Homo sapiens: one gene and its partners. The protein of the gene in region 3 interacts with the protein of the main gene of each other region in a biochemical or structural test. Each region holds a gene or a part of one and is shown on either strand. Other genes may lie near its edges. The genes, in order: SREBF1, VANGL2 and MARCHF8.

Region 1 (3,746 bases), on a different chromosome or scaffold from region 3:
AAAAAACTTTAAACCTACCACCCAGAGATAAGCCCTGCTAATTATGTGAAAGAGCTTTTCTTCTCTCTCTCTCTCTCTCTCTGTGTGTTTATATGTGTTTGGGGATGGGTGCACACTCTTCATAAACTTTTTTTTTTTTGAGACAGGGTCTCGCTCTTTTGCCCATGCTGTAGTCCAGTGGCATGATCTCAGCTCACTGCAAACTCTGCCTCTCAGGTTCAAGAGATTCTCCAGCTCCCAAGTAGCTGGGATTACAGTCATGCACCGCCACGCCTGGTTAAATTTTGTATTTTTAGTAGAGATGGCCATGTTGGCCAGGCTGGTCTCGAACTCCTGAGCTCAGGTGATCTGCCCACCTCAGCCTCTCAAAAGTGCTGGGATTACAGGGCATGAACCACCATGCCCGGCCTTCATCAATTTTTTAAAAACGACTTTATTGAGGTATACTTTATGTATCACAAAATTTACCCATTTTTAGTATATCATTCAATGATTTTTAGTTAACTTTTTGAGTTGTGTGACAATTACTAGCTGTCGAACATTTTTATCACACAGTGAGATCCCTTATACTTCTTTAGTCAGTTCCTGTTCCTGCTCCCAGCCCCGGGCAGCTGTGGATCTGTATGTGTGTGTGTATATATATATATATATATATATATTTTTTTTTTTTTTTTTTTTTTTTTTTTTTTGAGACGGAGTCTTGCTCTGTCGCCCAGGCTGGAGTGCAGTGGTGCGATCTTGGCTCACTGCAAGCTCCGCCTCCCAGGTTCAAACAGTTCTGCCTCAGCCTCCCGAGTAGCTGGGATTACAGGCACCTGCCACCACGCCCGGCTAATTTTTTTGTATTTTTAGTAGAGATGGGGTTTCACCATGTTAGCCAGGATGGTCTCGATCTCCTGACCTTGTGATCTGCCCACCTCGGCCTCCCAACGTTCTGGAATTACAGGCGTGAGCCACCGCGCCCGGCTGGATCTGTATTTTTATAAATTAAAATAGGGTCCATTGGTTCACAGCTGATTGGAATCTGCTTGGTTCCATGTCAACAGCCAGACGACAGTAAGGTTTCCTCTTATTACCCACCTGATTCCCTGTCGATGGACACCTAGGTTGTTTTATCTTTATAAACTGCTGCAGTGGACACTGAGGCCGGTTTTTTTCTTTGTTTTTTTTTTTTTGTTTGTTTGTTTTTGAGACAGAGTCTTGCTCTGTCACCCAGGCTGGAGTGCAGTGGCGCGATCTCGGCTCACTGCAAACTCCGCCTCCCGGGTTCACACCATTCTCCTGCCTCAGCCTCCCGAGTAGCTTGGGACTATAGGTGCGTGCCACCATGCCTGGCTAATTTTTTGTATTTTTAGTAGAGACGGGGTTTCACCGTGTTAGCCAGGATGGTCTCGATCTCCTGACCTCATGATCTGCCCGCCTCGGCCTCCCAAAGTGCTGGGATTACAGGCGTGAGCCACTGTGCCTGGCCACTGAGGCCAGTCTTTGCCCGGATCCTCACTGTGTTCCTAGGATGAGGTTCTGGGAGGGGAATTGCTGGTCAGAGGTCGAGCCTGCTTTTGAAGCTTCTTCTACCAGGAGTGGAGCTGAGCAGGTTTGATAAGGTCTGAAGATTTGGGGGTGGAAATGCCAGGTCCCTTGAGAGACATGAGGGATAAGAGGGGGCCAGGCTGGCCTTGAGTGCCAGAGTGCAGAGCTGGGCTAGATGTGAGGACAGTCGGGGGTCAGAGCAGGGGCACACCGAGCTTCAGTTCCCTCTGGCTGCTTGGATGGAGGATCGTAATGTGAACAGAAAACACTAATTGAGTACTTACTGTGTTTCAGACAGTGTGTTGATAATCCCACTTAATCCCCTGACAACCCCAAGTAGGTAGACATATGATGAAGATGACGGCCTTGAGGACCAGAGAGGTTAAGTGATTTGCCTGAGATCACACAGCCAGATGATGGCAAAGCCAGAATTCAAACCCAGGCTGTGGGCTCCAGAGCCTAGCTCTTAAGCTCTTAAGCACTGGGCTCCTAAGAATGGGGATGAGGGGTTGAGGGAGGCTCCTCCACAGGGGCTACTCTGGGGGCCTGGAAGTGGGTCACAGAGGGGTCAGAGGCTATGTGGCTACCTCCCCATCCCAGTCCAGAGCAGTGTTTGAGTCATTAGACTGGGAACCAGCCCTGGTGAGCCAGCCAAGGGCCTTGGGCCCCATCCGGTCCTGCTGCCTGCCACAGCCAAACTCTTGTCATGTGAATGGATTTGGGGATGGAGCTGCCTCCATGAGTCCTTGCATCTGTGGGTGAAGGCACTGCCCTGGCTATAGTGTCCCTGGGTTTGAGTCCTGCATCTGCACCAAGACCTCAGGTGAGCCTGTCTCCTTCTGGGCCTCAGAGTACCTTGCAGCTGTCGGGGGAGGATGGATCAGGAGATGGCCCTGTACCTGTGTTGGGGATTATTGTTAAGCCCGTGGCAGTCTTCACCTCCCTGCTGAGGATTAATTTATCCAATTTTGCACAAGCTTATGAGTGCAGAAGAGGCAGACGGAAACAGAGTTCTGGCCAAGAGCCTGGAACAGGGCCTCGGGGTCTCTTTCCTATGCCTGGACCCCGTCATGTCTGCTCTTTGTCTGTCGGACCCCAGATGTCTGCCAAGCCCCGTCAGAGGCTGCTTCCCAGAAAGCCCTTCTGGGTGTCACCTTGCCCCGAGCAGTGCGTTCTCAGAGTTCTCCCGCCCTGATGTCCCTCCCAGCATGCCCAGCCCAGCCACAACAGGGCCTTGCTTCTAGTCATGTGTCTGGCTGTTTGCTGGGTCCAGGCCAGCCCTGGTAGGGCACAATGGGGGCCCGCTCTGCCACCCCATACCTCTCCCCAGGATATCTCATGCCCCAGTTCTCTCCCTAGTTCCACCAAGCACTGGCACTCCTTAGAAAACACAGCTCTAGACTAGTTACTGCCCTAGCTTACAGCACAGAACTCCCCTGGTCTCCAACCATTCATGGCTCCCTAGTGCTCCAAGATAAAGTTCCCTTGTCTCAGCCGGGTTGGGAGTTACCTTCTGCCCAACATTCACCTAGCTGGACACAAACATCCTGAGTGACCCGGTCAGCTCCAGGCAGGAGTCACTGCCAGCAGAGGCCTGGGATCTGGACTTTGCCTGCTGACAGGTGGAGCCCAGGCCGGCCAGAGGAAGTGCCTCTGACCTTGTCTCCTAGCAGCCACGGGCCATGTGGACATGCCTTTTGACCCTGGGCACTGACAGTGTGTGACAGCCTGCACCATGTGCTCCACAGGGGCGGCTGTGTGTGTCGGGGGTGAGGTGGGGAAAGCCTTAACTGGCTCAGGGGTGAGAGGTCAGGGAGCCATTGAGACTGGCTCCAGGTGTGGGTCCCCTGCTGGGTTGGGGCTTGTGGGAGGTGGGACGGGGCTGGGGGTCCATCCCCCTAGGGGGAATTTGTGGCCTACCCCGAACCCTGTTTGAGCTCCTTTCCTAACTGACTCCCCGTCCCTGCACCTGTCTCCCAGCAGGCCTTGCCTCTGCATGCTGCCCCTGCCAGGCTCTGGGGTCCCTGTGCTCCCTGCAGCTAGAAGGCTGGGATCAGGGGTCTTAACAAGCAGCCCTACTGTATGACCTTGGACAAGTCCAAGAACCTTCAGGTTCTTAACAATGTAAAGGGAGCAGTACTAAAAGCAGCTTCTTGGAATTGTGGGGATCCGATGAGTGAAGGCTTAAGCAGTGCATGGCACATAGTAGGCCCTGA
Region 2 (3,746 bases), on a different chromosome or scaffold from region 3:
GATGCCTGATACCTGTTAATTGGGAAGCCTTGTCTGTTAACATCCTGACTTAGGTTTCAAGCTTTCAGTGGGGCCAGACTATGGAATTATCTGTAATTCTGGCATCAGAAGCCCTTTTTCCAGTTCTTTGGGCCATTTTGGGGTCTGTGAAACAGGCTAGCAGCATGTGAAGATAATTCACACTAAATCTGCCTGAGAGTCAAGACAGTGCCACGGCAGCCCCGACTCTGTGTCAAATTACACACTAGCTGCCTAGCACTGGGGTGTGCTTTGGGGCAGGGCTGGGGACACCCATGTCCTCCCTACTTCCCTTAACCCTTCCCCAGCTCTCCTGCCACTCCCTCATACACCTGGTCGTGGTCACTGCCAGGAGCCCCAGTGCGGCCCAGTGCCTGCACATGATAGGCACAAGGTGAATGAGTGCCTGGACGCATGCAGGGACTTGGGTACCTGAAATGATGATTCTGCATATTTCATGTAGTCTTGATGCTGAGTCACCTGCTTACCCATACTACTGGAGGAGGGGATGAGGAAAGACAGAGTTTGGGCAAAGGAGAAAGGAAGTGTGTTTTACTGTTCTGCATCTTTGAACAATGCAGCATAGTTGGTTCTGTCCTCATCTTTGGACAGGTTAGAATGAACCATCAAAAGGGGTGAGATTAGGTCTCAGGAAATAGTTTTCATCAGGGAGGAGCAAAAATTCCCAAACAAGTGAGGAACAGAGGCTGGGAGTCTCTTTCTCTGGGATTCCTTAATCACAGGGTTGTTCAAGCAGGTGCCAGGATTGGAAACTGAAGGAGGCTGAGATATTGAAAAGGCCTTGGCCTGCTTAGGGAGAAGTATGTGAAGATGCTTTTGAAATGATACTACTCTAAGTGGCGGGTTGCACGGCAATAACATTAATGATAATTGAATACTGCTTTCACTTACTCCAAGGGGAACATGGACTTCCCACAGCCCAGGCTTTTACGGTGTGGGTTCACTCTTGTAGGGTCACATGTAAAAGAACCCTAACTGGTTTCTTGGCATACTGGGAGGCACAAATGCCCCAAACGTGTAGGATATTTTGTGAGATCCTACAATCCCTGTGTGGCACCTTCAACTCTAAAGTATCTGAAACTCCTGGGATGGACAATCTGCCTGCTTGGGGTTGGGGACCCAACTGGCCAAGGCATTTTTCCTCTTGGAGGTTTCCTGGGAGAAGGCCCCCTCTCCTCTGCCATTCAAACTCCCAGGCGCCCGCGTCTTTTCCTCCTCCCCTTCTTCCCTAAGGCAGGGTTCCCTTTGTAATTAATCCCAACACTCAAACCAGAGGGGAGGAAAAATGTGTTAATGAGGGAGCGTCCCAGACTGACTGGGGCGGTCGCTGCTCGCAGCTAGAACTCCAAGTAATTAAATTATTTTTGGAAGGAGGGGATATGGTGGTGATGGTGTCAGGGAAATCCCCGTATGCATGGGAAGAGGCGTGCGCCTCTCGCCACTAATTAAAATCAGGGATGACCCTCCCTTCTCGGACCCCTAGGGGGAAAAAAAAAATCAATCTTCCCACGTCCCAGATTCCATTGGATTTTGTGTAGTCGGGTCCGTGGCCCTAAAGAGAATATGGCCAGCCCCAGGGATCTGGGGGCTCCTTCTCCGACAGGAGGGGTCCAGGAAGACAGCCCCAGGAGGGACTGCGGGCTGGGCCAAGTCCAAGAATCGAGGCATTCCCCTGCCCACCGTTCGGGACCCGAGTGTCAGCCCCACCGCGGATTCCCAGGATCGGGGAGGGCCGCTGGGCATCTGAAGGCGCAGGGCTGGGGGAGCGGCGACTCCGGGAAGAGCGGGGCCGCAGACAATGGACGCGGCGGTAGGAGGGGCGGCGGCTGTGGGAACAGCCGGGAGGCGGCACCCGGGAGCTCGCGCTCCCCCGCCCCCTGCACCCCCCACCCTCATCCCCTCCCCCTCCGCCCCCTCCCCCCTGCGCCGCCGGCTCCCGATCTGATTCCTGATCCTTGATTCCTTGATCCTTGGTCCCGCCATGGGAGCCTGAGCGCCCCCTATTCCCCCCTGGCCCCCAGCCCCCGGGGCCTTGAGGGGGAAGAGGCAGCGGTCTGGGACGGAGCAGGGGGTGACCAGACTCAAGAACCCCCCCCTCAACATCCCCCATCGCGCGCGCTGCCTGTCCAGGAGCGCCGAGTTCGGAGCGACCCGGAGCGCTGCGGATACAAAGGCGACGGGCCGAGCGGGGCGCCCGCGGAGCCCACCCGGCAGTTCGCAGCGGCGGGTGAGTGCCGGGCCGCGGGGGCGCGGGCAAAGTTTGAAAAAAAAAGAAGAAAGAAAGAGAGAGAAAAAAAGAAATGGAAAAGGAGGAAAATCATGCAAGGGGCCAGGGGGTGCCCGACCCCAGAGCGAGCGGGGTGGCTTATGGGGGAAGGGGGGCTGGACTCCGGGCAACCCCCTTCCGGTCCGCTTCCCCACTGCACAGCGGAGTACCCCCCCCAACTTTGGGGAGGGGAAGGGGCTCGTGGGGAGGGGGCGGAGCCCAGGCCTGGAGAGCCGGGGACTTTCCTGGGCCCGGGCGGGGGCCTTAATGATCCCAGGGGAGCCGGTTGAAGCCGGAGACGGGGAGCTTGTGTTGGAGGTGGGGGGAGAGGCGTGGAAGGATCGGAGTCTGGAGGTATTGGAAGCCAAGGGTGTTTTGGGGTGCATACACCCCTCAGGAGCGTGGGGAGGGACGGAGGCAGGTATGCGTTAAGGGTGTAGAGTGGAGTCAGGGGGGCGGGTTGGGCAGAGTAGATAGGGTGTATGTACAGACCGAGGATGGGGCTGGAGGCGGTAGACTGTGTATAGGGGCCGAGGGGACAGGCGCTGGCATCCCTCTCCCCACTCATATTTACCCATCTGGGGGACTGTGGGCTCTGCGTTAGTGAGTTTTGAAGGGTTGGTGGAGGATCCGTGTGCATGATTCTTTGTTTTGGTGTGTGTGCACGCCTTGACGTGCTGCATGTTCCTGCAGGTGGGCCCCTGGTTTGGATGTGTAGGTGTTTTTCTGTGCTTGAGTGTGTGTGCACCCAGGGAGCGGCTGACCATGCATCTGCTGTGTGTTTGGATATGTGTTTATATGTATACTTAGGGGAGGGCGTGTATGTCTATGTGTGTGTACTGGGAGAGGGGTTCACGGGAAAGAGGTGTGTAGGTACTGAGGAAGGTGGGTGTGTAAGAGCAGAATGGAGTGTATGTGGATAGGTGTGTGTGCACCTGTGTACTGGGAAGGGGTGTGAATCTGTGTTCTCTTGTGTGTAACCTGTGTTGATGGGTATCAATGTGTGTGCCTGCCTTAGCTGGTATGTATGTTTCTGAGTGTGTGTCGGGGGTACCTCTAGACTCTGCAGGCAGATTTTCCTGGCAAAAATCCCGAAAAGAAGGCTGTCTGCAGGATTTTGAGACTTCGTGGATGGCCTCGCCTGGGTTTAGGGGTAGTACCTTAAGTATCTGAGACCTATGGGTGGGAGGGAATGAGTTGTCTTATGAAGTGCCTGTTTTTGGGGGATGGGTTTTTCTGGAAGAGGGCGTGTGTTGTGGGGAATAGGGAACAAGGGGTCTGGTTGTAGTCCTAGAGGAATTTGGAAGATTGGCGGGGTCAGGGAGAAGAATAAGAGGAACTTCCTCCCCCATCGTCATAGGCTGGGTTCCAGCGCTTGGAGAAGCTACACTCTTGGATTCCCAGCCTTAGGTAAAAGCTTCAGGCCACAGTTCTCTTGGAA
Region 3 (3,746 bases):
CTGATTCTTTGTTGTTGTTGTTGTTTTTTAAGAGATGGAGTCTTGCTATGTTGCCCAGGCTGGAGTGCAGTGGCTATTCACAGGTGTGATCATGGCACACTACAGCCTTGAACTCCTGAGCCTCAGCAATCCTCCATCCCTCAGCCTCAAGTATCTGGGGACCACAAGCCTGCACCACTGACCAATGGATTCACAACTCATCCAATGTTGCTCAGTCAAAGAAGAGTGGAAGACAGTGTCCAGCTACTTCCTGCTTTTATAGGATGTAGTTTGCGGAGATTCTCATGCTCCAGAATATGAACTCTCCTGACTGGGTTTCAAAAACTACCACCACAGCAAAAGAAATGCCAAAAAGGAGGCTAGTGCCTCCTAACTGATGTCCCTCCTCCGGAAACCCAGACGTTTTTGGCTAACTGGAAAATCCTCTGACCCCAGGACTCCTGTGAGCTATCCCGGCCCCCATGCTGAGCTTGCTCCAGCCTGAGAACTCACCTGTTGCCTGCCCCTGCTTGATCTCCTCAGCAGTACGGTCAATGAGCACATACAAGGACCAGACCACACATGTGATGGCAATGACGTGGAATGTCACTGAGCACATGATCTTCCTGCGCTCGCTGGACGTCATCTGCAACTTCTCCCACTAGAAAGACAACACAGAGTGTGAGGCTCAGGCTTCTGGGGAAGGGCTCCGGTGGGGTGAGAGCATTGTAGGTAGGTAAGATTGGCTTTCCACCCCACTTCTCCCTTCCCAAACTAGATGCATTCCCCCAAGTATTGTTCTCCTAAAACCACTTGGCTTCAACCAGGTACCAGGTGCAGCCAACTTTCTATGCAATGAAAAGAAGCCAGGATCAAGATGAATGCAGAACTACCATCAAAAATCCCCTTGTCTGCTTATTCTTGCAAGCAGACATAAGATGGCCTGATAAAGAATTCTATGATTTCAGTCCTAATGAAAACAGTATGTTGGCCCAGGACCCAGGTACTACGTTTTAAGTCTCCCTGATGTGCTGACTGGCATGGACGAGCGGAAGAAGAGGGTTGATGATGCCACAACACACTAGCAGATGGGTCACACTACATTGTGAAGGTGAATGGCAGAAGACGCTCACTCTTTGGTCCTTGCTACTTTGGCAGCAACAGCTCGAAATCGACGCTAAGAGTTCCTGGTACAAGCAGACTCTGCTAGTCCCATCTCCTCTAGGAGCTCATTAATTTACTCCAAATAGCCAGACTTTCTTTTTCATTTACTGGTTTCCGAATCAGGAGAAAACACATAAAGGTAGAGAGAAAGAACAATGTGTAAACACTCTGCACATATCCTTTGCCAACCCTAGTCACAGCCTCTTTCCAGATGAGTCTATGCAGGGTAGTTGAAAATAGAGCCTCAAGGACTTCCCATGTTGAGAGATTAGCATAGAGTAGGCACCCAATAAATTACAAGGTTTCTACTGGGCAAAACATTTTTTTAAGCAGTTTGCACAAGCCTTCTCTAAATCTGGTTGTTTTCTGCTGGGATTTTATACACTAGCAAGTTCCCTGGTCTTCCTACCTATAATACAGAGTCAGTGCCTCAGTGCCCCATGCTCCCTGCTACTTCCTACAACGCACGTAGCTTGACACCCTGTCAATGTTCACCTTCACCTTTCTAGGGTATGCTTTACTCCACAGACAGCCTGACCTCTCTAAACTCCTTGCACTCTGCCTCCAAATCCTAGTGATCCTTCAAGAACTGCTCTAAAACCCAAACACCCTATGAGGCTACCATCGCTCCACTTCCCCAGCACTCTAGCTCATAATGAGCATTTCCTTTTCTGAATGACTGTTATGCTCTACCAGCACACCATTTAGCATTTAATTGGCTAGTATTTGATTATGTGACTTATCTTGCAATTTATATATTAATGTTCTGAGATAGGAACAGTTTTTTATTCTTCCAGACAAAACCTTTTGTGCTGGGCATCTAGAGAGATATATGAAACAGTCAAAATTTAAACAGGAAGCCAGTGTGGCGGACAAAGCTCCTCTCAGAGGGAGCAGTGACATGGGCCTCCAGACAGCTGCGTGTCATGCAATGCCTGTGGGTCCTTTCTGAAGACAGTTGCACATCACGCAACGTTTGTGCTTCCTTTCTTTTCCCTATCCACCTACTCACACTCCCATCCAGCAAATAGTTATCATGGGTGTATACAAATAAATTTACTGTATGCTACACTGTGCTGGGTGCTGGGGAGATACTAATCTCCAACAGACAGTCCTAATCAGAGAAGCAGGACGTCAACAGTTAATATGTATAAAATTAGGTGCTAAGATATGTCACAAACAGTCTGTAGTCAAAGGCCAGAGGACTGACACCGACAAGCAAGCAGTCTTACTTTGAAGGGAAAAGAAGGATTATGAATGGTCAGAAAGAGCTTCTTCCTGAGAAGAGGGACTTGAAAATCAGCACCAGAAACAACAATCTCTACAATGCAAATGTAAGCACCAGCCCCAGCTTTTTAAGGAAATGAACGCAGGCAAGCCATGACCTCATGATCTGAGACACCAGCTTTCTGGGGGTCACTGGTTTCAGGAAGGGTGAAGCATCCCTTCCTCCCACGTACTTTTCTCAGTGGCTTCAGCTTGGTCTCCATGATGAACTCATACTTGCAGAGCTCGCAGCAGCGCGTGTCGGAGCTCTTGATCCACTGCTGCAGGCAGGCCTGGTGCACGAAGTGGAGGCTTCCTGTGCAGTGGCAGGGGGTGATCAGGGGGCTCTCATCATCTCCTTCACAGTGGCAGATCCTATGGTGGAAGGAAAACCTGTCATTCCAAGGACAGTCCCATGACAGGGAAGCTGACACTTCAGTGGCAGGTTAATCCCCCCAAAGGAAACTCAGAAACGAACATTACAGAAGTGACTATGGGCACAAAAACATACAAACACAAACGAAAACAATCACTACAAACTAAAAATGTCTAGCTTACCGCACCAACATGGAAAGTCTGGAGGGCATTTGGCAACAGAAAGGAAAAAACGATGTAAGAAATGACAAAGCTGTCATTTTTTGGTAAGAAATAAGAACTTCACTGAAAGATGAATTTAAAGCAACATGGAATCATTTTCCAGAACATAAGATGGTAAAATAATTAGAGGGAAAATTTCTATGTAAAACAAAACCTGCATTCCAACATCCAAAAATACCAGTGACCTTAAATGACGTTTGCTTTTTAGCTATAATCACTGACTTTACCTTCATACCCCACAACTACACATTTCTGTCGTCTCTCAGCAAGTAAACAAAGATGACAGTACCTCTCTCCTAGACCTAAAAAACTCACCATTACAAGATGCTGCAATTTCATCTCTTTTTCTTGGGACCACTAATAGCAATAAGTGAGAAATTAATTTGAAAGCACTCTCTATTTCCAAGGAAGTATGCAACAAGGTGTAGCTACTAGCCTGAAGGAACTTAACAGGCTTTTAAGAAACAGAGGGGTCTTTTCCAGCAGCTAGAGAACAGGTTGGGGCACTCGTCCTGGAAGGAGCCAGGCTCTCAGGCTGTTTTAGTGAGGGGATCTCTGATCCAAATGTTAGAAATGATGACAGCTGGCACTAAGGAGCGGAGACTGGAGAAAGGTCAGAATGAGGAGGGCACAAGAGTCATGACAAAAAGTGAATTATGGAGGCCAGACAAGGATGCTGCACAAGGGAAGATAAAGGGGGGAAACAGAGTTAGGATGGGACATAGGTGGCTACACCTCAG

What was found.
Region 1: the proteins of MARCHF8 (region 3) and SREBF1 form a complex in vitro, tested with the Homo sapiens proteins (one study listed by BioGRID).
Region 2: the proteins of MARCHF8 (region 3) and VANGL2 form a complex in vitro, tested with the Homo sapiens proteins (one study listed by BioGRID).

Annotation. Positions count from the first base shown.
Region 1 is NC_000017.11:17,830,364-17,834,109, reverse strand, and holds part of SREBF1 (sterol regulatory element-binding protein 1), read left to right. Parts: intron 1-3,746.
Region 2 is NC_000001.11:160,398,604-160,402,349, forward strand, and holds the start of VANGL2 (vang-like protein 2), read left to right. Parts: upstream 1-1,960; 5' UTR 1,961-2,266; intron 2,267-2,571; exon of another isoform or gene 2,572-2,726; intron 2,727-3,746. UniProt on the Homo sapiens protein: Involved in the control of early morphogenesis and patterning of both axial midline structures and the development of neural plate. Plays a role in the regulation of planar cell polarity, particularly in the orientation of stereociliary bundles in the cochlea.
Region 3 is NC_000010.11:45,458,628-45,462,373, forward strand, and holds part of MARCHF8 (E3 ubiquitin-protein ligase MARCHF8), read right to left. Parts: intron 2,785-3,746; coding exon 2,604-2,784; intron 1,251-2,603; exon of another isoform or gene 1,113-1,250; intron 641-1,112; coding exon 493-640; intron 1-492. UniProt on the Homo sapiens protein: E3 ubiquitin-protein ligase that plays several important roles in innate immunity and adaptive immunity.